Linked DNA regions of Homo sapiens. The protein of the gene in region 4 purifies or fractionates together with the protein of the main gene of each other region. This does not show direct contact. Each region holds a gene or a part of one and is shown on either strand. Other genes may lie near its edges.

The links.
Region 1: the proteins of OR5F1 (region 4) and GALM purify together in Homo sapiens (affinity purification with mass spectrometry; 2 studies listed by BioGRID and IntAct, with this or other methods). This does not show direct contact.
Region 2: the proteins of OR5F1 (region 4) and IRGQ purify together in Homo sapiens (affinity purification with mass spectrometry; 2 studies listed by BioGRID and IntAct, with this or other methods). This does not show direct contact.
Region 3: the proteins of OR5F1 (region 4) and UBA6 purify together in Homo sapiens (affinity purification with mass spectrometry; 3 studies listed by BioGRID and IntAct, with this or other methods). This does not show direct contact.

What each region holds. Positions count from the first base shown.
Region 1 is NC_000002.12:38,732,072-38,735,265, reverse strand, and holds the end of GALM (galactose mutarotase), read right to left. Parts: intron 1,801-3,194; exon of another isoform or gene 1,779-1,800; coding exon 1,701-1,778; 3' UTR 501-1,700; downstream 1-500. UniProt on the Homo sapiens protein: Mutarotase that catalyzes the interconversion of beta-D-galactose and alpha-D-galactose during galactose metabolism.
Region 2 is NC_000019.10:43,586,134-43,593,175, forward strand, and holds part of IRGQ (immunity-related GTPase family Q protein), read right to left. Parts: coding exon 5,893-7,042; 3' UTR 1-5,892. UniProt on the Homo sapiens protein: Autophagy receptor that specifically promotes clearance of misfolded MHC class I molecules by targeting them to the lysosome for degradation.
Region 3 is NC_000004.12:67,698,137-67,705,561, forward strand, and holds the start of UBA6 (ubiquitin-like modifier-activating enzyme 6), read right to left. Parts: upstream 3,020-7,425; 5' UTR 2,984-3,019; coding exon 2,913-2,983; intron 1-2,912. UniProt on the Homo sapiens protein: Activates ubiquitin by first adenylating its C-terminal glycine residue with ATP, and thereafter linking this residue to the side chain of a cysteine residue in E1, yielding a ubiquitin-E1 thioester and free AMP.
Region 4 is NC_000011.10:55,993,157-55,999,156, forward strand, and holds OR5F1 (olfactory receptor 5F1), read right to left. Parts: upstream 1,470-6,000; coding exon 525-1,469; downstream 1-524. UniProt on the Homo sapiens protein: Odorant receptor.

The DNA.
Region 1 (3,194 bases), on a different chromosome or scaffold from region 4:
ATAATCAAATTGGTAGCTAGGTTGCAGTCAGCTTAATAGTTCACCTCTGAGGCCTCTTGGCTAATGTATATATTGGTAACTTTAATAAGAGTGGAGAGATCTGCAGGCAGCATCTTGCTCAAGTCACCAAAGTTAACCTCACCAGTGAGAAGACAACTGAGCATGTACCTCACCTGACTGGCTGCTGTGGGCAGCATCACACCTGACCTGAATCCCTTCACAGACCCAGCAGAGGGCTGTGTACAGAGCAGGTGCTCAGAAAAATCCATGCTGAAGTGAATTAAAAAATAAACAAGATCTTTGGTTTATTATCGGTTACAAAGAAAGAGGAGGTGTGGAAAGCTACTTCCACTGAGATAGCTTTCCTAACTGTTAGGTAGGAAAATGCCAGGGCTCCCACTGGAGGGCAAAGTAGAATCCAGAACACACCCATATTCTTGGTCCATTTCCCAAAGGTCCACGCCTGAGAGATTTCAAGCTGAGTAAAGGAACAAGTCTTCTGAAGATGCAGATTTTGGTTTTATTTCAATTCAGTACAGCATACACTAGTATAACATACTTTTTTTTTTTTTTTTCAAAATCACCAACCAAAACCCATCACTGATACTTTGATTGTCTAGGAAAGAAGGAGCCCCAGCCTTGTCACATACAATCTCTGTCCCTGGTGCAATGTCATCCTCACTGTGCTGTGAAAGGCAAGGCTCTCTCCTCACCCTAATAGCTCCTGTTTCCAGTGCTTGCCTGTCTTTCTTCCCAAGCGTTGGCCGGGCTGTGCTTTCTCAGTTAACCCAAAGGCTCTTGCAGGCCTTTTCCTCTCGGAAGTCCCCTCCCTCTCCCGAGAGAGAGAGCTGCTTTTTTTTCCTTTTTTTTTTTTTTTTTTTTGAGATCGAGTTTTGCTCTGTTGCCCAGTGCAGTGGCATGATCTCGGCTCACTGCAACCTCCACCTCCCAGGTTCAAGCGATTCTCCTGCTTCAGCCTCCCAAGTAGCTGGGACTACAGGTGCGTGCTACCACACCCAGCTAATTTTTTATGTAGAGACGGGGTTTCACCGTGTTAGCCAGGATGGTCTCGATCTCCTGACCTCGTGATCCGCCTGCCTCGGCCTTCCAAAGTGCTGGGATTACAGGCGTGAGCCACCGTGCCCGGCCTCAACTTTTTATTTATTAGCTTGTTGGTCTTCAACCTCTGTAAGCCTCAGTTTCCTCACTTATCAATCATCTACTGCTGTATAGAGACAGGTCCATCTCCTAGCATGCAGGGTGAGGCTAATGTGACATTTGAAAACTCCAGAGTGCTGCTGACAGTGGTTGGAGGTGAAGGAGGAGGAAATAAAAGCAATGTGAGAATAGCTTTAAAGAAAGGAAGGGCAAAAAGTTGAAAAGAAAGAGGCAGTGTGGAGAGATGGAGCCAACAGCAGCATGGGAGTCCCTGGCTAGGGTCAGGGCTTAGATGACGACATTGTTGGTTGGGTTCACTTGCCCTCTGAACTGCACAGGGAATCGAGCTGGTCATTAGACATGGCCTGGAGCCAGTCACTGGAAAAGGAAATCAATACCCAGACTGATTCTCAGAACAGCCACCATTTGTATGATTTTAATCCATAGAATCATTCTGAAAGCTTCTTAATCTTCACCTTTTTTCTGGACAGGAGACAGGTGGCTGAGCCTAGCCCTGGACTGGATCATATCTTCACACTTCCTTAAGCCACAGAAAACTTGAACCAGGTGGTGTGGTCATACTCCTCACCAGGCCTCAGCAGCACAGGAGGGAAGCGGGGCTGTGAAGGGGAAACAACACAGGTGATGCTTGACACCGCAGGCTGCAACATTAACCATTTGGGTGTGCTTCTGGACGGGCTTCTAGACCAGTGCTCTGTGGATGGCTGCCAGTGCGGGAACTGTTTATGATTGGTTCATAGTGAGATAAAGAACTTTAATCAGAGTGAAAAAAGCACACTTTGTTAAAGGAAGGCTTTCCTGATGAAGGGAAGCAGTGTGTTGATCTATAATCTGGTGTAAGGTGTAGGCTTTTTTTTTTTTTTTTTGAGATGGAGTCTTGCTCTGTTGCCCAGGCTGGAGTGCAGTGGGGCGATCTCAGCTCACTGCAAACCCCGCTTCCTGGGTTCAAGCGATTCTCCTGCCTCAGCCTCCAGAGTAGCTGGGATCACAGGCACCTGCCACCATGCCCAGATAATTTTTTTATTTTTACTAGAGACAGGGTTTTGTCATGTTGACCGGGCTGGTCTCGAACTCCTGACCTCAAGTGATACACCTGCCTCAGACTCTCAAAGTGCTGGGATTACAGGTGTGAGCCACCGCACCTGGCCCTTTTTTTTTTTTTTTTTTAAAGACAGGGTCTCATTCTGTTGCACAGGCTGGAGTGCAGTGGTGTGATCATGGCTCACTGCAGCCTTGACCTCCCAGGCTCAGGGATCCTCCCACCTCAGCCTCCCAAGTAGCTGGGGCCACAGGTGTGCACTACCACACCTGGCTAATTTTTCTAATAATCTGTAAAGATGGGGTCTCCCTGTGTTGCCCAGGTTAGCCTCAATCTCAGGCTCAAGCAATCCTCCCGCCTCAGCCTCCCAAAGTGCTGGGATTACAGGCATGAGCCACCTTGCCCAGCCCAAGGTGCAAGCTTCTTATTGTGGGCTGGCACTTTCAGGAGTACTGCTCTGGGTAACAACCAGAAAAGAAAGTTATGAGGGAGCACATAGGAGGAGACGATATGGAAGCTCTCCTTAAGTGTGGCTGCAGAAAACGAGAAGGTATTGTTAAGGAGAAACAAACTGGATAAAGGCTTTGAAGGTACAAAATTTCAGCTTTCTTAAAACCATGTAAATCCCATGTTAGTAGCTTGGCTATGGGTTTTCTGTGACTTGCAGAAGAGAATAAGCATGAACTTTTGAGCCGGGCACAGTGGCTCACGCCTATAATCCTAGCACTTTGGGAGGCCAAGGCAGGTGGATCACCTGAGGTCAGGGGTTTTGAGACCAGCCTGGCCAACATGGTGGAACCCTGTCTCTACTAAAAATACAAAAATTAAGCAGGCATGGTGGTAGGCGCCTGTAATCCTAGCTACTTGGAAGGCTGGGGCAGGAGAATCGCTTGGACCCAGGAGGCGGAGGTTGCAGTGAGCTGAGATCGTGCCCAGGAGGCGGAGGTTGCAGTGAGCTGAGATCGTGCCACTGCAC
Region 2 (7,042 bases), on a different chromosome or scaffold from region 4:
GGCAATGCCAAAATTCATCATACATTTCCTTGAATTCCTGCCTTCAAGGGTCTTCCAGCCCTGTGGTGCCATGCAGACACACTTCAGTGGCGGCCAGTGATCTGTCTACAAGGGAGTCTTAGTCTTTTCTGCTTGGATGCTCCCAGGGACAGATGCCTGCCAACAACCTTATGTCTTCACAAAGACTAAAATGGAATCCCATTAAAAGTTATGATTTAAAAGGCGACCACCCCCAAAAGAAGTCATAACACTCAAGGGTGTCAATATATACAACTGTGTAAACACAACCAATCTACAACTATATCAACACAACCAGCACTCCTCTATGGGCACAGACACACACACAAAATTGTCTTGCTTTCTCAGATATGATCTCTGGCATGACTCCTGCTGGCATGAGGGCAGAGGAAATTGAGAGGAGCAAAGCATATAGCAGTGATGTCAGACAGGACCAAATCAGAGACAGGGTCAAAGTGGCAGAAAAATGAGGAGCACACTCCGAGCAAAGGCATGGGGGTGAGACAAAGGCACCCAGACTAGAGCCATCTTGGTGCTGCCCAGGGGTGGGTGGCACTCATGTTTGAGCTCCATGTGTCAGGCTTTTCAGGAAAGGGTGTACTATGTTATGTGTCTGTGTGCATATTGTGTGCCTGCATGTACATACATACGCTGAATTCTCACCATAACCATGTGAGGTAGATGCCATTTGTAGAGTGACTTGCCCAAGTCAGTGGAAGGACTATCTGCCCCTAGAGCTAGACTGATAGAATTTTCTATGTTGATGGAAGTATTCTGTACCTTCCCTGTCCAATACCATAGCCACTAATCACATGTGGCTACTCAGTATTAATGTTGCACTACTGCCAATGAAACATAGAATTTTAAGTTGTATTTACTTTTAATTGAACAGCTGAGGCCAGGTGTGGTGGCCCATGCCTGTAATACCAGCACTTTGGGAGGCCGAGGTGGGCGGATCACCTGAGGTCAGCAGTTCAAGACCAGCATGCCCAACATGGTGAAACCCCGTCTCTGAGAAAAATACCAAAATTAGCCAGGCATGGTGGCATACACCTGTAGTCCCAGCTACTCAGGAGGATGATGCAAGAGAATCAGTTGAACCTGGGAGGCAGAGGTTGCAGTGAGCTGAGGTCATGCCACTGCACTCCAGCCTGGGTGACAAAGTGAGACTCTGTCTCAAAACAAAACAAAACAACCCAGCAACTTGGTCAACATAACCAGACCTGCATCTTTACTTAAAAAAAAAATGGACACCCATCTCAGTTTTTGGAAAACTATTATATAATTGGAACAACTTGGATATGTGAATCTACTTCTCCAACTATGAATTTTATGAAATCAAAATAAAGGTCAAGCATTTCAGATAAAAATGTACCATGGTAATTGAGATTTGGTGTAAGTGTAAAATATATAACAGATTTTGAAGACAGCACAAAAGAACGTAACATAATTCATTTAAATAATACCGATGACGCCAGGCACGGTGCCTCACGCCTGTAATCCTAGCACTTTGGGAGGCCGAGGTGGGTGGATCACCTGAGGTCAGGAGTTTGAGACTAGCCTGGCCAACATGGCGAAACCCCATCTCTAACCAAAAATACAAAAATTAGTGGGCATGGTGGCGGGTGCCTGTAATCCCAGCTACTCGGGAGGCTGAGGCAGGAGAATCACTTGAACCTGGAAGGTGGAGGTTGCAGTGAGCCGAGATTGTGCCACTGCACTCCAGCCTGGGCAACAAAGCGAAGCACTATCTCAAAAAAAAAAAAAACTAAAAAACCGATGACATGTTGAAATGCTATTTTGGATACATTGGGTTAAGTAAAACATGTTAAAATGAATTTAACCTGTTTCCTTTTACTTGTCTAATGTGGCTATTAGAAAACTTGGCTTACTCAGCACTTTGGGAGGCTGAGGTGGGCAGATAACTTGAGGCCATGAGTTCCAGACCAGCTTAGCCAACATGGTGAAACCCCATCTCTACTAAAAATACAAAAATTAGGACGGGTGCAGTGGCTCACGCCTATAATCCCAGCACTTTGGGAGGCTGAGGCCGGTGGATCACCTGAGGTCAGGAGTTCAAGACCAGCCTGGCCAACACAGTGAAACCCCATCTCTACTAAAAATACAAAAATTAGCTGGGCATGATGGTGCATGCCTGTAATCCCAGCTACTTGGGAGGCTGAGGTTGCAGTGAGCCAAGATCGCACAACTGCACTCCAGCCTGGGTGACAGAGCAAGACTCCGTCTCCCAAAAAATAAATAAATAAATAAAATAAAAATACAAAAATTAGCTGGGCGCGGTGGCTCATGCCTGTAATCCCAGCACTTTGGGAGGCCAAGGCGGGTGGCCTGAGGTCAGTAGTTCCAGACCAGCCTGATCAACATGGTGAAACCCCATCTCTACTAAAAATACAAAAATTAGCCAGGCATGGTGGCATATGCCTGTAATCCCAGCTACTCAGGAGGCTGAGGCAGGAGAATCACATGAACCTGGGAGGCGGAGGTTGCAGTGAGGCGAGATCGTGCCACTGCACTCCAGCCTGGGTGATGGAGTGAAACTCCATCTCAAAAAAAGAAAACTTAAAATGACATATGTGGCTTGCATTTCGTTTCTACTGGACAGTGCTGCCCTGCAGCCCTCCCATTCCATCACGTGGCTGACATGCCTGATTGCAGGGCTTAGACACTAATATGATGGGGTAAAGATATGGATGAATATTCTTCCCCAAAGCTGAAAGAGCTTTCATGAAAATGCCTGGAGCCATTCAGTATAGAACTAAGTGCTCTTCCCCATGGTAGCTATCTCAACTTTGAAGGGACAAATTTTGTCAGCAGTGGGAGTCCAAGCTGGAGATGATGGTACCATCCCTTGTCTGCCCTTGGATCAGTTACCTTTGTCTTCAGCTTTTAAGGGAGACAGGATCTCAAAACTAAGGTTCTTATCCAGCTCTTTTATTTCACAGATGGGAAAATAAGGCACTGTCCAAGTAACACACAGTGACAGTGGCAAAGTCGTGCTTGCTTCCCAGGTCCCTGACCTCAGACAAGGGTGTTCTCTCCCATTAAATGCTTTTTTCTCCTCATCTTGCTCCATTTTCCTATCTTGTGGCAAGAGATTAACAATCTAAATTCCAATCCTAGTTCTGACACTGACCAATGAAATAAACATTTAGGCTGGGTGTGGTGGCTCACACCTGTAATCCCATCAAGGCAGGAGGATCACTTGAGGCCAGGAGTTCAACACTAGTGTGGGCTACAAAGCAAGACCCCCGTCTCTACAGAAAATTTGGTGCTGTGTACCTATAGTCCCAGCTACTCTGTAGGCGGAGGTGGGAGGATCGTTTGAGCCCAGGAGTTGGAGATGGCAGTGAGCCATGATCATCCCACTGTATTCCAGCCGGGGCAACAGAGCAAGACCCTGTCTCTAAAATAATAATAATAATAATAAATATTTACGAAGCACCTATTGTGTCAGGCACCTATTGTTCTAGATGCTGGGGAAACAACAGAGAACAGGACAGGCAACGGGTCAAAAGCCAATAAACAGGTAAATAAATAAGATCATTTTTGACAGTAATAATTGCTACAAGGAAACTCAACTGGCCGAAATGAATAGTGGGGGAATGTGAGCTACTTCAGATAGGGTGGTCAGGGAGGGGAAGTCCTCTCTGAGGGGATACGTGAGCTGAGATCTGACTGAGCCCGTCACAGGAAGGTTTGAGAGTAGAACAGGAAGTTGTGAGTAGAGCCTTGAAGGAAAGAGAACAGCAGGTGCATGGGTCCCCAGGCAGGACTCAAGGTAGCCACTCAGGCATCAGAAAGAGTCAGGCGGCCATGATGGCTCACACCTGTAATCCCAGCACTTTGGGAGTCTGAGTCGGGTGGATCACCTGAGGTCAGGAGTTCGAGACCAGCCTGACCAACAGGGTGAAATCCCTTCTCTACTAAACTACAAAAATTAGCCAGGTGTGGTGGCACATGCCTGTCATCTCAGCTACAGTCATCACATCCCTGTACTCCAGACTGGGTGACAAGGTGAGACTCCATTTCAAAAAAAAAAAGAAGGAAAGTCTATCAGGCTGGACAGGAGTGGGAAGGGGCAGTGAATGAGAATAGGCAAGGGCCAGACCCACAGGGCCTTACTGTGTGCTGTTGGGCCTCAAGCCTGCCCTCTCTGGACTTTGCTCTTTCTGTCTACGACAAAAGGGATTCTATCGCTTGGATTCTCAGATCCTCCTTTTCTGTTTTTGACACTGAAGAATTCTGTAACCTGCAACTTTTCCCCCACATGTGGCTAGCAGCCTAGAACATTCCAGGCACTGTGGTTTCTGCCTTTGCTTCATTCACTCCTGGCATATTCCCATGGTCTCAAGTGCCTGACCACCCATTTGGTGGGCCCCTGGCTCAATGCAGCACCCTCTATGTACATCAGAAAGCAGAGCCTCTTGGGGATACCCGAGGTGTCCATACAGAAGTGTTTGGACCAGTGCAGCAGTACAGCTGCTCTTCTGAAAAGGAAGGTGCACAAAACACCAAGGCCATAAAGGGTTATGGTTAAATACCAGGAGAAAAAGGCCAAAAAAAGATAGAAACTCCTAAAGAAAAGAGACAGAGAAACAGACTCCCCAGAGATCACCTGAATTGCTCAGCACCTAGAAGATGAAGGCAGTCATATCCCTTCCCAGTCACACTCACAGAGGCAGTTGCCGGGATCCCAATACAAGGTTTGGAGGAGCTGTCTCTGAGGTATGCTTTACTGCCCTTCCACACCCAAAAGACCTCATTCCTGGTCCCTGGCTACTCCCAGAGCCCACCATGCCCAGACCTCTTACCCACCTCACCTCATTTTTGTGGGACCACCCTCCCTACATGCTTTTGGAGGGCAATTATAGAAACCCATCCACTCCCCAGGAGAGATCAAGAAGTCTCCAGCTTTCTCGCACAAGCCCCCGATCCCTCCTCCAGATGCAGACCTCCCCTTACCCAATATTTAGGAACCAAGGTCCACAGCCATCTTAGAACCCCGGAAGTCTCAGACCCCAGGGGCCTCCGCCACCCCATCAAGATTCAAAGCCCACTGCTCCTTGGGGACCTGTGTGCAGGCTTTTTCTCCCAGAGAAATGTAGACCCTGTTTCCCTCTGAGGCTCTGAAGCCCAAGAGTTCCAGCTCCCTGGGGCGCTCAGGTCTCCCTCCCCTATACTGGAGTTCAGGTCCCAGTCATGGACACCTCCCCACCAATTAGGAAACAGGACTTCTACCAGCCTCCCTGGAGGACTAAACATCCAGTAACTCCAGTTTCTACTCCCTAGGAGACAAAGACATAGTCCCTGCTAGAGTCTGGGCCACCAACTCCCTTCAGGACAGAAGGGTCTAGATGTCATTCACCATGGTTCCCAAAGGTATCAGGATTCCTGGCCAGGGGCGGTGGCTCACGCCTGTAATCCTAGCACTTTGGGAGGCCGGAGCGGGTCGATCGCCTGAGGTCAGGAGTTCGAGGCCAGCCTGGCCAACATGGTGAAACCCCGTCTCTACTAAAAATACAAAAATTAGCCAGGTGTGGTGGCAGGCACCTGTAATCCCAGCTACTCCGGACGCTGAGGCAGGAGAATCGCTTGAACCCGGGAGGCGGAGGTTGCAGTGAGCCGAGGTCGCGCCATTGCACTCCAGCCTGGGCAACAAGAGACTTCGTCTCACAAAAAAAAGAAAAAAAAAAAAAAAAATCAGGATTCCTGTCCCCCAGACTCTCTGAATCCAGGTGATAAGAAGTCACACATCCCAGCTGGAAGTCAAGAGTCCACATCCCCTTCAAGCACCCAGGATTAAGCCCAGGCATCCCCTGTCAGAGTCTGGACTCCCAAGCCCCCTCCCACTCCTCACTGGGCAGGCTCAGGGGGTGCCAGCACAGCCTCAGCATCAGCCCGCATCTCATCGAGAGCCTGCAGCAGGACGCCGTGAGCCGCTCGGTAGCCCAGGCCACCTGTCGCCGCTGCACCACCCGCAGGCCACAGGAAGGAGAGAGCCCCCAGTGCTGCGCCCCCAGCAGTGCCCTCGCCCGCCCAGGCGCCCAGTCTTGCTTCCACCTCGGCGCGCGTCACCGGGCCTGGGAAATGAGCGCGCGCTGCCAGCTCTCCAGAAGCCAGGCCCAGGGCACGCTCACGTCGAGCCAGTGCCGTGGGTTCCAGCCCCAGGCCCCGTCGCCACTCCGCCAGCTGACCCCGCAGAAGTGCCACGTCGCATGCCCAGCCCAGCCCTGGGAGTGGTGCCGCCGCCGCCGCCAGACTAGCCAGCAGAGCTGGCCTCCACGCCCCGGCTCGCAACGCCGCAGCCTTGGTTCGGGCAGCGCTGGGAGATGCTGGTGGCAACGCCAGCAGCAGTGCCCCTGCCTGGGCTGGGGGGAGCGCTCGCCGCAGCCATTCGCATAGCCCTGGGAGTCCGCCAGGCCGTAGGGGGAACACTGGCGGCGGCGCCTCCTCCAGCACCTCCCACGTCTCGTCCTCCGGGCTTAACGCAGCGGCCCGCTCTGAGTCGCCACCACCTGATTTCTTCATGCCGACAACCTGCTGCAAACCCTCGCTGCCAGCTTTCCCAGGACCTTCCCCGCTGCCTGCTTTCTGCGATCCAGCGCTACATTTCTCCCTTCCCTTACTGAGTGCATTCTCCAATCCCCCTCCACCTGCGTTCTTTAAGCTCTCGCCCTTGGGATTCTCCATCTTGCCTTCTCCCAGACACTCCGGATCCTCGCCCTCGCCGTCTGTGCGCACGCAGACAAGAGGCGCATCTGGTAGCAGCAAGGCCTGGACCTGGGCCCAGTCCTTCTCAGTGGGGGCCCCAGGGGTGACGAGGATGAGGGCGTCGTAGTGCGTTGGGTGAGAGGCGGCGGCCGCGGTGGTGGCAGTGCCCGTGTGGCCCAGAGGCACGGTCCAGAGCACCACATTCGGGCGCTCTGGGGCTGGGAAGGGAGTGGGTGCTGTGGGGACCGAAGCAGGCGCAGCGCCTGGGTCGCCAGGATCCAATCCAAGCAGC
Region 3 (7,425 bases), on a different chromosome or scaffold from region 4:
GGAATAGCTGACTTCTTGTCACTTAAGCCTCTATTAAAATATTGTGTCACAAATACCACACACCTCATTCCTGATCACCCTATCAATAAAATGGCTACTCTTATCCTTAGGTTGCTGCCTAACTCATTAACCTGTCAGTTTCTTCAAATCACTTACCGTTAACTGTCTGCCACTACTACCAAAAAAATGTATGGTCTGTTAAAAACTCACTACTGTATTCCAAATACCTAAAACAGTACCAGGCATTTAATAATAATAGATAACCCTGTGCTACATATTTAAGTGCTTTAGATGTACTTATTCAGTTAACCCTTACAACAACCTTGTCCAAACAGTGGGCAAGCACTATTGCTATCTCCAACGAACAGATGGAAAAAAGAGGCTGAGGGAGGTTAACTTAAAATTTGCCCAAAGTCACAGAGCAGGCAAATGGCACTGCCAGGATCTGAACCCAGGCAGTCTAGCTCTTGACTACCACACATACTGCCTACTGTTTCTGATATTAGACATAAAGGAAACACTTAAAAAAACCTGTTAAATGGGATGGGCGCGGTGGCTCATGCTTGTAATCCCAGCACTTTGGGAGGCCAAGGCAGGCGGACCACCTGAAGTCAGGAGTTCGAGACCAGCCTGACCAACGTGGTGAAACCCTGTCTCTACTAAAAATACAAAAATTAGCCAGATGTAGTAGCAGGCGCCTGTATTCCCAGCTACTTGGGAGGCTGAGGTGGGAGAATCGCTTGAACCCGGGAGGAGGAGGCTGCAGTGAGCCAAGATCCCACCACTGTACTCCAGCCTGGGTGACAAGAGCAAGACTCTGTCAAAAAACAAACAAACAAAACAAAACAAAAAAACCCTGTTAAATGAATAAATTTTAAAGGAAAAAAACTAATCTAAATATGCAAATCTGACAAAGTATACTTATTATAGTAACATATTATTTATAGCAGTGCTCGTCCCATTTTCACAGCATGGCCTTCAAAAAACGTATCTGTACTAAACACTGGCAAGCAGAGATAATTCCCAGGTACAGGGAACCAGTCTGGAGCATTTGGAGCTGAACCACTGTGAGAGCTGAGATCAATATACTGGCAGAAGTGGAGGCCATTCCTAGTTCTGAGAAGCTCTAGTTGTCAATTAAAAGATTCTAAAAACAATGCGATGGCATCAAATTCAGGCTTGGAATCCAACTTTCTAGTCCTAGCATTGATAAATAAGCCAAAGAATTTGTAAACAAAGGTAATTAAAATGTTATCATTTATCTCACCAAACACTGGCACATATCAAATGATACCAGCTTCTAGCTAATTAAACGGATAGCTATTAAAAAAACTGATTCCAATTACCAAGGCAAATCAGAAGATAGCTGTGTTCTAAGAGATCACCTACCTAATAAAAAACACACACATACACAATATACCCTGTTTGGGCATTGTAACAAAATATAAAAATTAACAAAATTTGTTTCTTTTCTTTTTTTTTGAGACAGGGTCTCTCTCTGTCACCCAGACTGGAGTGCAGTGGCACGATCTCGGCTCACTGCAGCCTCGATCTCTCTAGACTCAAGCGATCCTCTCATCTTAGCCTCCCGAGTAGCTGGGACTACAGGCGTGCATCACCTACGCCCAGCTAATTTTTTTGTATTTTGTAGAGACGCGGTTTCGCCATGTTGCCCAGGCTAGTCTAAGAACTCCTGAGCTCAAGCGACCCGCCTGCTTCGACCTCCCAAAGCGCTGGGATTGCAAGCGTTTGAGCCACTGCGCCCGGCCAAAGTTTTTTATTATCTACTTTCCTATCATTTTATCCCTAGTACACTTTCACTTGCTGTTTTCCTTGCATGGCGGGGGCAATAGGCCTGGTGGGTAAATCTGAATAAAAACGAGAACAGCTGCAGTCTAACTAGCTCTGCCACTTAATGGCGTGACTGGCCCTTTTCAGAAAGTTGTGCCTCACTGGAATGTTTCAAAAATATGTAAAAATAATATGATCTATAAGACAATCAAAAACGCTTCAAATAAGGCGCGGGTTATATTACATAATATCCCTCCACTCTGGCAGTGTTGGCAATGGCAGACAACACCATGAAACTGAAAGCATCCCTTCAGTCTGAAACTGGCGAAAAGGCTACAGGTTTACAAAGTCTCACATCAGCTGAAAATAATACATCCATCAATTCTATCTTTGGCATGGTGTATTCTGACAGTGGTGGATAGAATGTAACCACTTGCTTTATTAATTATGAGATGATTGAAAGAGGAACTACTAACCAAGAAATTGGTAAAGGCCTAGCACAAATATTTTCCCCCTAATTTTACAGGGGCGGGAAAGACCTGAAGAACTTCAAAACCAAGTGGGAAATAAGAATGGGTAACTTGTGTATTTTTTTTTCCTGGCTTTTTTTTTTTCCTTCTTCCGAAGTCAACAAAGGCCTCAGGGTGTCCAGATTGCTACTGATTCATTCTTACCAAGTTCCTTCTGGTAATAGTTTTCAAAAGAGGATCTCAGTGGAGGTGCACAGTGGCGCTCCTAGCTTTCTTTTTACGGAAAGGAGGAAAGGTGCTTGGCACCAGTCGGGGAAGCTCACGCCAAGTGACCGAGACCAGAACTCGCTCTCGACCGGAGCCCCCCAAGTCTGGTGACTTGGAGGAAGGAGGATCCCGAATCCCAGCCAGAACTGAGAAAGCCCTCAAAGGTGCGGAAAGGGGACTTTTCCCTCAGGAAAGCCGGCAACAGCAGAGGCCCTAGCCCACGTCGCCACACCCACTCCGCGCGCGCCCCTCGCCTCCCAGGGCCGGCTCTGCTCGGCCCCGCGGCCTCTCGGGCGCCCCCAGCCCGCCGGAAAGAAAGAAGCAGAAACCCGGAGCCTGGGTCCCACCCGCGACCCCTCACCTTCGCCCTTCTCGTCCTCTCACCTGCCAGTCCCCCAGGAAGAACAGGACGCCTCTTCCCCCTGATGGGCGGCCACAGGCTCGGATCCTTCCATTGCCGCCTGAGACACCGCCGCCGGCTACTGGAAGGTAGGAAGGGGCGGGACCGTGGGGGGGTCAAGGGGCGGGCGGAGACGTCATCAGAGGGGGCGGGCCTGGGGAAGCTAGGAGCCCGGCAGCGCCTTCCCGTCAACCCTAGGGGCGTCCTGGTTTCCGGTTTGGGTGTGGCCGCATGGCGTGCTGTGGTGCAGGTGGCCGAAGGGGGCGTTACTGTTGCGACTGGCATCCGCATCCGGCAGATGTAGATGGAACCAAAGTCCAGAAGTTACGCGTCACCCTTGCTCTACAGCCAAACATGCAGGACTCTAGTAACCCGCGAAATGATGGGATAGCGTTGCAAATCCTTAAAAGAGTCTTAACGGTAAGAAGAGGAAACAGCTTTATTTTATAAATAAACTGAAGGCTGCTAATAGCTCCAGATTGTCAGTGAGGGGATACCACTTAAAGATGTTATACATTTAATAAATAATTTTGGGAGTCCACTACATGTGAGGCGCTGCCTCAGATTTAATAGAATCATGTGACTTTTAGTGCCATAGATGTCGTTAGATCATCCAGTTTGGTCCCTTAAATTTGTGGGTAAGGGAAAGGAACTTCCGGTCAGTGCAAGTGACTTGGTCAAGGTTATAGAGCTAGTCACTGTTAGATTACCAGAACACATATCTAAAAAGTTCTCATATAATTCTTTTTCATTTACTTCCGTGTCACCTTTCTTAGAAAGCAAAAATGAGTTGGACACAATAACATTAGGATTTGTCTTTCACTAAATAACACTGTATATTTGAATAAACATCTGCAGGATTTTTAAAATTAGCATATACTTTGGGTATTATGTAATTTTCTGTGATGTATCATATTTTTAATTAGAAATTTTTCCTCTCATATGGAGATGAGGGTCCAGGCAAAACTGTATTATCCTTCGTGCCCTCTATTCTCTTCAAAATTGCACATCTTAAAATACCTGGAAGCTTTATGTTGCTCACCTATAGCATTATCCGTGTTCCTCAATCCAGTTGTGAACCTTTTCCACATTAAAATGTTCTTGATCTGTGTTCTATTCTTTCAAGGCTCTGCTCTAGCACTAAGATAATGCTACAGGACTGAAGATAATGAAAAAGATTGAAGAAAGCAGAAACAGAACAAAAATCAGATTATTTCAAAGTTTCTTTCCTTGTAAAGGTTAAAACAGAGCATACTTCCTTATTATGCCCACTAGGTTAACTAGAATCTCCTGTTTTTTTAAAAAAAACTGGCTCATTTTTTCAAAATCCACTTTAATTACATGGTGCTTAGCACAAGCAACTCCATTCTGGTTTGATCTGATGGGGCCTAGTGTAGAAGGCTAGGCCAAAACAATGGCCTGCCATTACCCACGCTTCTTCATATTTTAACATCCATGAATAGAGGATGAATTTTTAAAAAATAAATACAGAAAACGATGCATCTTAAAATTGAGGGCATGTTAGATTTGATAAAATATGGTGTGAATTATTTCAGGCATGTAACAAGCAACCAGATTTAACAGATTTTAATGTTTTGTCACATATGTAAAATGGGAAAGAAAACTAGGCGATCACAGCTTTTTGACAGTGAGGCTTTATGTCATAAGAAAGTAGAATGACATATTGAGGAAACTTAAGGGAAAAATATGTAGGCCAAAGATTTTACATTCAGCAAAACTAATATACAAAAGGTACAAACTGTTATCAACAATTGATATATCAATTTGGTGAGACTAGTGTTTTCATGAGCCCCTCCTTAATAATTAATTGGAGAAAGTGTCTGACAATCAGAATTATTACAGAAACATTGATCTAAGGATTGACTCGGTTTCTTTACAGCAAATCATAATCTGTTGCATTTATTAGCTTTTGTGTTTCTTGTAGTTTATTCTTTATTACTAATTCTCCTGAGTTCTGTCACCTCATTTCTGAGGTTTTTCTAATTCAGAATCAAGTTCTTCCATATCTTTTATCATTTCTCTAATGTCATTTAGCTAGTTTCAAAATAATAAATTGTTTTGTAGTGCATCTTTCAGGCATGTTTTTATTATCTTTGATGATGATGTTATATTCCTTATTCTCTTCACATAATAACTGCATGGATTTGAACTTGATGCTTTTTTTGTTGCTCTTTTTTTTTTTTTTTTTTTTTTTTTTTTGAGACAGAGCCTTGCTCTGTTGCCCAGGTTGGAGTGCAGTGGCGGGATCTTGGCTCACTGCAAGTTCTGCCTCCCGGATTCACGCCATTCTCCTGCCTCAGCCTCCCGAGTAGCTGGAACTACAGGCACCTGCCACCACGCCCGGCTAATTTTTTGTATTTTTAGTAGAGACGGGGTTTCACCGTGTTAGCCAGGATGGTCTCGATCTCCTGACCTCGTGATCCACCCCTTGGCCTCCCAAAGTGCTGGGATTACAGGCGTGAGTTATTGCTCATTTTTATGTGAAATTGGTGTTCCTGAACTAATATGAGACAGGCTTCTTAGCCCAATAAGCCTAAGTTTATCAGGAACAAAACTGTATTCCAAGAAAGTCAGGTATATTAGTCTGTTTTCACACTGCTATAAAGAAATACCCGAGACTGGGTAATTTATAAAGGAAAGAGATTTAGTTGACTCACAGTTCCACATGGCTGGGGAGTCCTCAGGAAACTTAAATCATAGCAGAAGGTGAAGGAGAAGCAAGACATATCTTACACGGTGGCAGGAGAGAAGTGAGATCGTGGGAAAACTGCCACTTTTAAAACCATCAGATCTCATGAGAACTCCCTCATTATCACAAGAATAGCATGGGGGAACTGCCCCCATAATCTAATCACCTCCCACCAGGTCTCTCCTTGCACACATGGGAATTAAAATTTGAAGTGAGATTTGGGTGGGGACACAGAGCAGACCATATCATCAGGTTTACTGGCTCATTGCAAGGAGGGAGCCCACATTCCAGAAGAACCATGGGGTACCTCACCAACAGAGGAAGAGATAGATTTATTGTAGGAATTTGGGGAAGTATGGAGTTTAGAAGGAATTGAAATGAAGTAGTGCTTTGATAGACTCAAAAGAAAGCAAGGCTGTTTGTAAAGAATTCTACACTACATCTAAACTATTACTAATGGCAAAAACTGCAATTACTTTTGCACCAACGTAATACAAGATGGACCCAGGGTTCTGTTTTTTGGAAATTGCAAAGTTCTGCCTCTCAGAAGTAGAAACTATTTCTCTGTGTCAATGTGACTTTAGATATTCTAGCCAAGAGTGAGATATTTCAATCTTAATAATAGGATTTAAACAGCAGAGTTTTTGACAATCTTTTGATATTGTCATAAATGTTCTATGATTTTAGAGAAAAGGGCATTGTGTGAGTAAAAAATCAGTTACTCTAAGGGTGTGTGTGTGTGTGTGTGTGTGTGTGTGTGTGTGTGTGTGTTTGAGACATTTTAAAGCATCTTCCAGAGAGAAATAGTATTTTCTGTTAATTTCACAGCTGGCTTTATTTATGCCTGTTATCCCATAGCTGATGAATGGCAAAGCAGATTTTTACTTTCTTATTCTATGCTTATTTGCTTTCTCACAGGTTTTGGGAAAACTTTTCTAATTTCAGAGAATTCCCTTTTCTGTTGCTTTTGTGTAATGTTCAGCAATATTATGGTTTTATTTCCTTTTTAAATTAATACATACATAATAAGCATATATTTATGGGGTATTTTGATATTTGCGTACAAGGTATAATGATAAAACCAAGGTAATTGTGATATCCATCACCTCAAACATTGTTTATTTCTTTGTGTTAGGAACATTTCACATCTTGCCTTCTAGCTATTTTGAAATATATGATAAATTATTGTTAACTATAGTCACCCTCTAGTGCTATCGAACACTAGAAATTGTTTCCTCTATCTAATTGTATTTTTGTACCCATTACGCAACCTTTTTCATCCTCCTTACCCCCAACCTTCCCAGCCTCTGGTAACCATCATTCTACTCTCTACTGCCATGAGATCCACTTTTTTAGCTCTCACTTATGAGTGAGAATATGTGCTATTTGTCTTTCTATGCCTGGCATTTCACTTAACATAATGACCTCCAGTTCCATCTATGGTGCTTCAAACTACATGATTTCATGTTTTTGTGTAGATGACACATTTTTAAAATCCATTCATCTGTTGATGGACACTTAGATTGATTCCATATCTTGGCTATTGTGAATAGTACTGTAATAAACATGGGCATGCAGATACCTTTTAAATTTATTGAATTCCGTTTTTGGATGTATACTCAGGAATGGGATTGTTGGATCATGTGGTAGATCTATTTTTAGATTTTTGAGAAACTTCCATACTGTTTTTCATAGTTTCTGTACTAATTTACGTTCCCACCAGCAATGCACTAGTGTTCTCCTTTTGCCACATCCTCACCAGCATCTGTTATTTTCTGCCTTTTTGG
Region 4 (6,000 bases):
AGAGGAGGTAAAAAAAGCAGAGTTTAGAATTCCTATTAAAACTATAGTCCTAAAATTTGATTTTATTCCCCCAAGAAGTAGTTCAGTGAATACAAAGGAGAAATATATATTAAACTTATAGCATTTCTCACCTATGTGATATTTAACAATCCCTTAAAAATCATAAATGGTGAAAAATAATGCATAAGAAAAAAAGAATGGATAATAGAAATTATTTTATATTTCCAGTTTCATGTATCATTGTGGCTTTGGTCTGTGAACATATATTCCATTTGATTTCTAGATGAAATTTCATTTAAAAATATTCATTATTTTGGAGAACCTAACAAAGATATATAGAATCATAGTAAAGTCAACATGCCATGATCTTGAATCAGTTTGGTAACTTTCTTTATCCCTAACTGGATACAACTATTAACAGAATGTGTTTACTGAGAAAATATTCTAATAAAAAAATGTAGATATAAACTAGACTTTGAAAGTAACTAAAATATGCTCTTTAGTTGAGATTTTTAGCCAAACAATCACAGAAAGGAAGAGGTCCTTTTCCTGCTAATTACATTCGCTAAAGCCTTCTTTACTTCCTTACTCCTGAGGCTGTAGATCAGAGGATTCAACATGGGAATCACCACTGTGTAGAACACAGAAGCCACTTTGTCCTGATTCAGGGAGTAGCTGGAACTAGGTCTCAGGTAAGTATAGATGCAGGTGGCATAGAACAGAATTATGGCTGTCAGGTGAGAGGCACACGTGGAGAAAGCTCTGTGCCTCCCCTCCCCCGAATGCATAGAAAAAATGGAGAAGAGAACGTAGGAGTAGGAGGAGAGGATGACAAGCAGAGTCCCCACAATATTCACACCAGCCAAAATAGAACTTATGCTTTCTTTCAGGATTGTGTCAGAACAAGAGAGCTTGAAAAGTGGGGGACTGTCACAGAAGAAGTGATGGATGACATTGGAGTCACAGAATGACAAGCTGCTGACATGGCTTGTGTTGACCATGAAGTTCAGCAACCCTGCAGCAAAAGCCCCGGCTGCCATTTTTAGGTAGACGGTCCTGGACATGATCAAGGAGTAAAGCAGCGGGCGACATATGGCCGCATACCTGTCATAGGCCATTAACCCAAAGAGGATGCATTCGGTTGTCGCCAGGGAGATAAAGAAGTACATCTGTAGGAAGCAGCCAGCAAAAGAGATGGTTTTCTTCTCTGATAATAAATCTGCCAGCATCTTTGGGGTGATGGTAGTTGAGTTACAAACGTCCACAAAGGACAGGTTAGCCAGGAAGAAATACATGGGTGTGTGAAGCTGGGAATCGATCCTGATTAAGAGGATCATCCCGAGATTTCCCAGTACTGTAAGTGTATAAATCACAAGAAAAAACAAAAAGAGGATAATCTGTAGCTCCAGCGTGTCTGCTAATCCCAATAGGACGAACTCAGTCAGTGAGGTATAATTTTTTCTGGTCATTTATGAGAAATATATTTTGTGTAAACTTTGTATTAGTTGCACATATTTTCCTCTCTAAAAGTTTACAAAAAAAAAAAAAAAGAAGTGTTAATAGGACAGTCACATATGGCAAATAAATAAACAAAAACCCAGAATAATATGTCATAATTACTGAAGTAAGAGGAATATTAGAGGACCCATGGGTAAGCATTTACATGTAATAAACAATTGATTGTATTGAATTGGAGTTGTAGGCTTCTCAAATCACTGGCTGAAGTCCACATACTCTATTTCTGTGAATACAAATACTTTGTTCTATTGTTTCTATACTAGCCCACATCCAAAATGTAAAATAATAAAAATATTCTTGCTAAAATTTCTCCCATTCTCAGAGCAGGTATGTGAATTTAACTCAATGCATTCTTTTTTAATTTTCTCAAAATCACTCTGTACATTCTTCAACTCCAAAATTCATACTTTATCTCTTGAGAATGGCTTATGTGTAGCCCTAAGCAGCAAAAAGAGTGACCATTTCAAATAATCAATATTTTCACATCTATTGTATCCTTAAAAATAATTTAGTGATGTTTTAAAAGTAAACCAAATGATTGTTATACTACAATGTCCATTATCAAGTTAATTCCAAGAAGCAGCCGACAGGGTACCTATCCACCTTACTTAATAACATTACCAAATCTTTAAAACTTCCTCCCCAGATGGCTACTTACCTAAGTAAGTAACTATTATTTTTTTTTTATCAGAGGTTCTTAGTTGGAGCTTAAAAATAAAAGAAGAAAATTTAATTTAAAAAATGCAGTGGAAAATTGAATTATCTATTGGTAAAATCTTAAGATGCCTTATGATTAAATACTTGTTACTGCACTTGTATTTTGTTTTTCTCCAAGAAGACAGGGTAACCATGGGGAGTAGATTATAGCTATTAATTGCAGAGTCAATTCTCTACAGGCAGGAGCTCTGTCTCAAAACAATATTAAATATAATATGATCACATAGAGATGTATGGAATCAGACATTATGAAAGTCTTACATCATAAAGTGGTTTGTGACCTCTGGAAAATAATTGTCTATCTACACTGACTCTCTCTGTGTCTGTATTTTTAGCTTATTCTAAGTGCGTGACTAAACTATCGTTCTCCCCCTGTGCCATTTTAGTATGTGGGTGCACCCCTCTTTTTTTCGGTGTGACTTAAAATTCAGCTATTTTCCTGTATAAAGGTAGTGAGAAAGGGTAGTTAATAAATATCTATTGTATGATTTTTAAAGAAATCCTATAACCTGAGCAAATAGCACAATAGATTTAAAAATTATTATATATTTATGATTTTGAAATTGTGTTGGTTTTTGCCGTTACTATTTGTGATTCTTATCCTGCAAAGACATGAAGCTATAGATTTTCTAGATCTAAATTCAAAAAGAAGACAACGTAAAATATACTACATTGGGTATTCAAATGCAAAGAGAGTCTATTTGCATAGGGAACTCATAATGCAGCAATTGCTATGTTAATTATTTTGTTTAAATTCTCAATTACTTCTCTCAACCAGTCTTTCAGGTTGACATTATTATTCGCACATTTTATAGATGAAAAAAGTAAGGCTTTAATCTGTTAAACAACTTCCCCAAAGATAAACTGTTGGTAAGTAGAGGAATAAACTTGAACACAATCTTCAACATAAAGAACTAATACCTAGCTCGCTATTTCCTATCATGCTCCATTTTAGCTTATATGTGTATATATATGTGTGTATGTTTACGTGTATGTGTATATGTAGCGTGTGTGTATGTATATCTCATAGTGAATCTAATCCTCCAATCTTCAAAGCACGTAGGAGACATCAGCATCTAAAGGGAGGCCTCTAACATAATGCAAGAAATTTGTTAAAAAGTTGACTTTTAAAGATCTCACCATCATGTCTGATATGGTTTGGCTGTGTCCCTACCCAAATCTCATCTTGAATTGTAGTTTCCATAATCCTCACATGTCATAGGAGGGACACCATGGGAGGTAATTGAATCATGGGAGTGGTTACCCTAATGCTGTTCTTTTGTGATAGTGAGTGAGTTCCCATGAGATCTGATGGTTTTATAAGGGACTTTTCACTCTGTTGCTCATTCTACTTCTCCTTGCTGCTGCCATGTGAAGAAGAATATGTTTGCTTCCCCTTCTGCCATGATTGTAAGTTCCCTGAGGCCTCTCCAGCCATGCTTAACTGTGATTCAATTGAACTTCTTTCCTTTATAAATTACCCCATCTTAGGTACATCTTTATTAGCAGTGTGAGAATGGACTAATACAATGCCATCAAGACCTATGCCATGATTGATTATTACCTATTATATTTTCAATATTTATCTGCTTATGTATGTAAGAATACATAACTTAAGGAATGAAAGTATGTGAAATAATTTTTACTGGAGAAACTCAACTGTGAATTGAAAGAGATGGAGGAAAAACAATATATTCTCAATTCATGAATTTTGTTAGAATCAAGGAGAGAAGATAATACTATGAAAAAAGAAGAGATTGATGTTATCAAACCTTAAAAAAGCAAAGACTGAAAAAGTAGAATGAACTGGAAGTTTTAATTTAAAGTTTTGAAAGGAGTTTATTCAGGAAGAAGCAGAAAGAACAATGAATAAAAATACTTTAATTCATGAATGTTTAAATGGGGACAATACGGCCTTAGAAACCATTAATTTCTTAAAGCCATTGTGGTATAGCTTTCCTACAAAAAACTTTCATTTTTTTTCTTTTTTTAAATTATTATTATACTTTAAGTTTTAGGGTACATGTGCACAACGTGCAGGTTTGTTACATATGTATACATGTGCCATGTTGGTGTGCTGCACCCATTAACTCGTCATTTAGCATTAGGTATATCTCCTAATGCTATCCCTCCCCTCTCCCCAACCCCACAACAGTCCCCGGTGTGTGATGTTCCCCTTCCTGTGTCCATGTGTTCTCATTGTTCAATTCCCACCTAGGAGTGAGAACATGCAGTGTTTGGTTTTTTGTCCTTGCGATAGTTTGCTGAGAATGATAGTTTCCAGCTTCATCCATGTCCCTACAAAGGACATGAACTCATCCTTTTTTATGGCTGCATAGTATTCCATGGTGTATATGTGACACATTTTCTTAATCCAGTCTATCATTGTTGGACATTTGGGTTGGTTACAAGTCTTTGCTGTTGTGAATAGTGCCGTAATAAACATACGTGTGCATGTGTCTTTATAACAGCATGATTTATAATCCTTTGGGTATATACCCAGTAATGGGATGGCTGGGTCAAATGGTATTTCTAGTTCTAGATCCCTGAGGAATTGCCACACCGACTTCCATAATGGTTGAACTAGTTTACCAATGGAAAAACTTTCATTCTTAAGGGTACAGTTTGATGAGCTTTGACAACACATACAGTCTTGTAACAACTACCACAATTAAGACAGAATATTTCATTTAGCCTCATAGATTCCATTATATTTCTTTATATTTAATTCCTCTCCTTCCTCTAGTCCCTGACAACCACTGGGAAACCACAGATGTGATTTCTGTAATTCTTTTCCCCTTTTTAGAGTATGATCTAAGTGAAATCATACAGCTTATAGCCTTTCAAATCAGGCCTTCATCTTTACTATGATGTTTTGAAATTCAACCATGTTGTTCTTTTATCACTTTGTTTTTTGTGAGGTTTTTTTGCCTTTATAAAAAAGAAACTTCCAAAAGCAATGGACTAATGGACTACTAAGTAGTAGTCCATTCCATTATGTAAAACTAATTGAGAGAAAATGACATTGTTTCCAAATAAGAGCCATTATAAATAAAGCTTGTCTTTGTATCTACATATTTTTAAAATTTCACTTGGGTAATAACTGGAAGTCTATTGGATCATAAGGTAAGTAAAAGCTATTTAAGAGACTGACAAACTTTGACAACATTTTAAAACGGTGTTTTGTGTCAACACAACAATGTCTGGGAGTTCCCGTTGCTCTAAATCATTACCAGCACTTGGCATTTTCTTTCTTTTACATTTTTTAGCTAGTCTGATAGATGTGCCATTATTTCTCATTGTGGTTTTAATTTGAATTTCCCTAACAACTAATCATTTTAAACATTTTATATGTTTTCTTGCTATCACTATTTTTTGTTGTTTTGGTAAAATGTCCGTGAAAATTTTCTCTTTGGTTGTTCGTTTTATTATTACTGTTTTTTCATAGTTCCTTTTATACCCTGGATACAAGTCCTTTAATGCATATGCACTTTCACAATGCATGCTTTCAGTTTATGCCTTGACTTTACATTTTTGAGAGTAGCTTTTTATAAGCAGAAGGTAATTTCAATTAAGTGAAGCAAGTACATAGATACAAAGACAAGCTTTATTTATAATGGCTCTTATTTGGAAACAATGTCATTTTCTCTCAATTAGTGTTATGTAAGAGAATGGAATACTACTTAGCAGTCATTATTAAGTCCATTGCTTTTGGAAGTTTCATTCTTATAAAGGCAAAAAAGAAAAAAACCCACAGAAACAAAT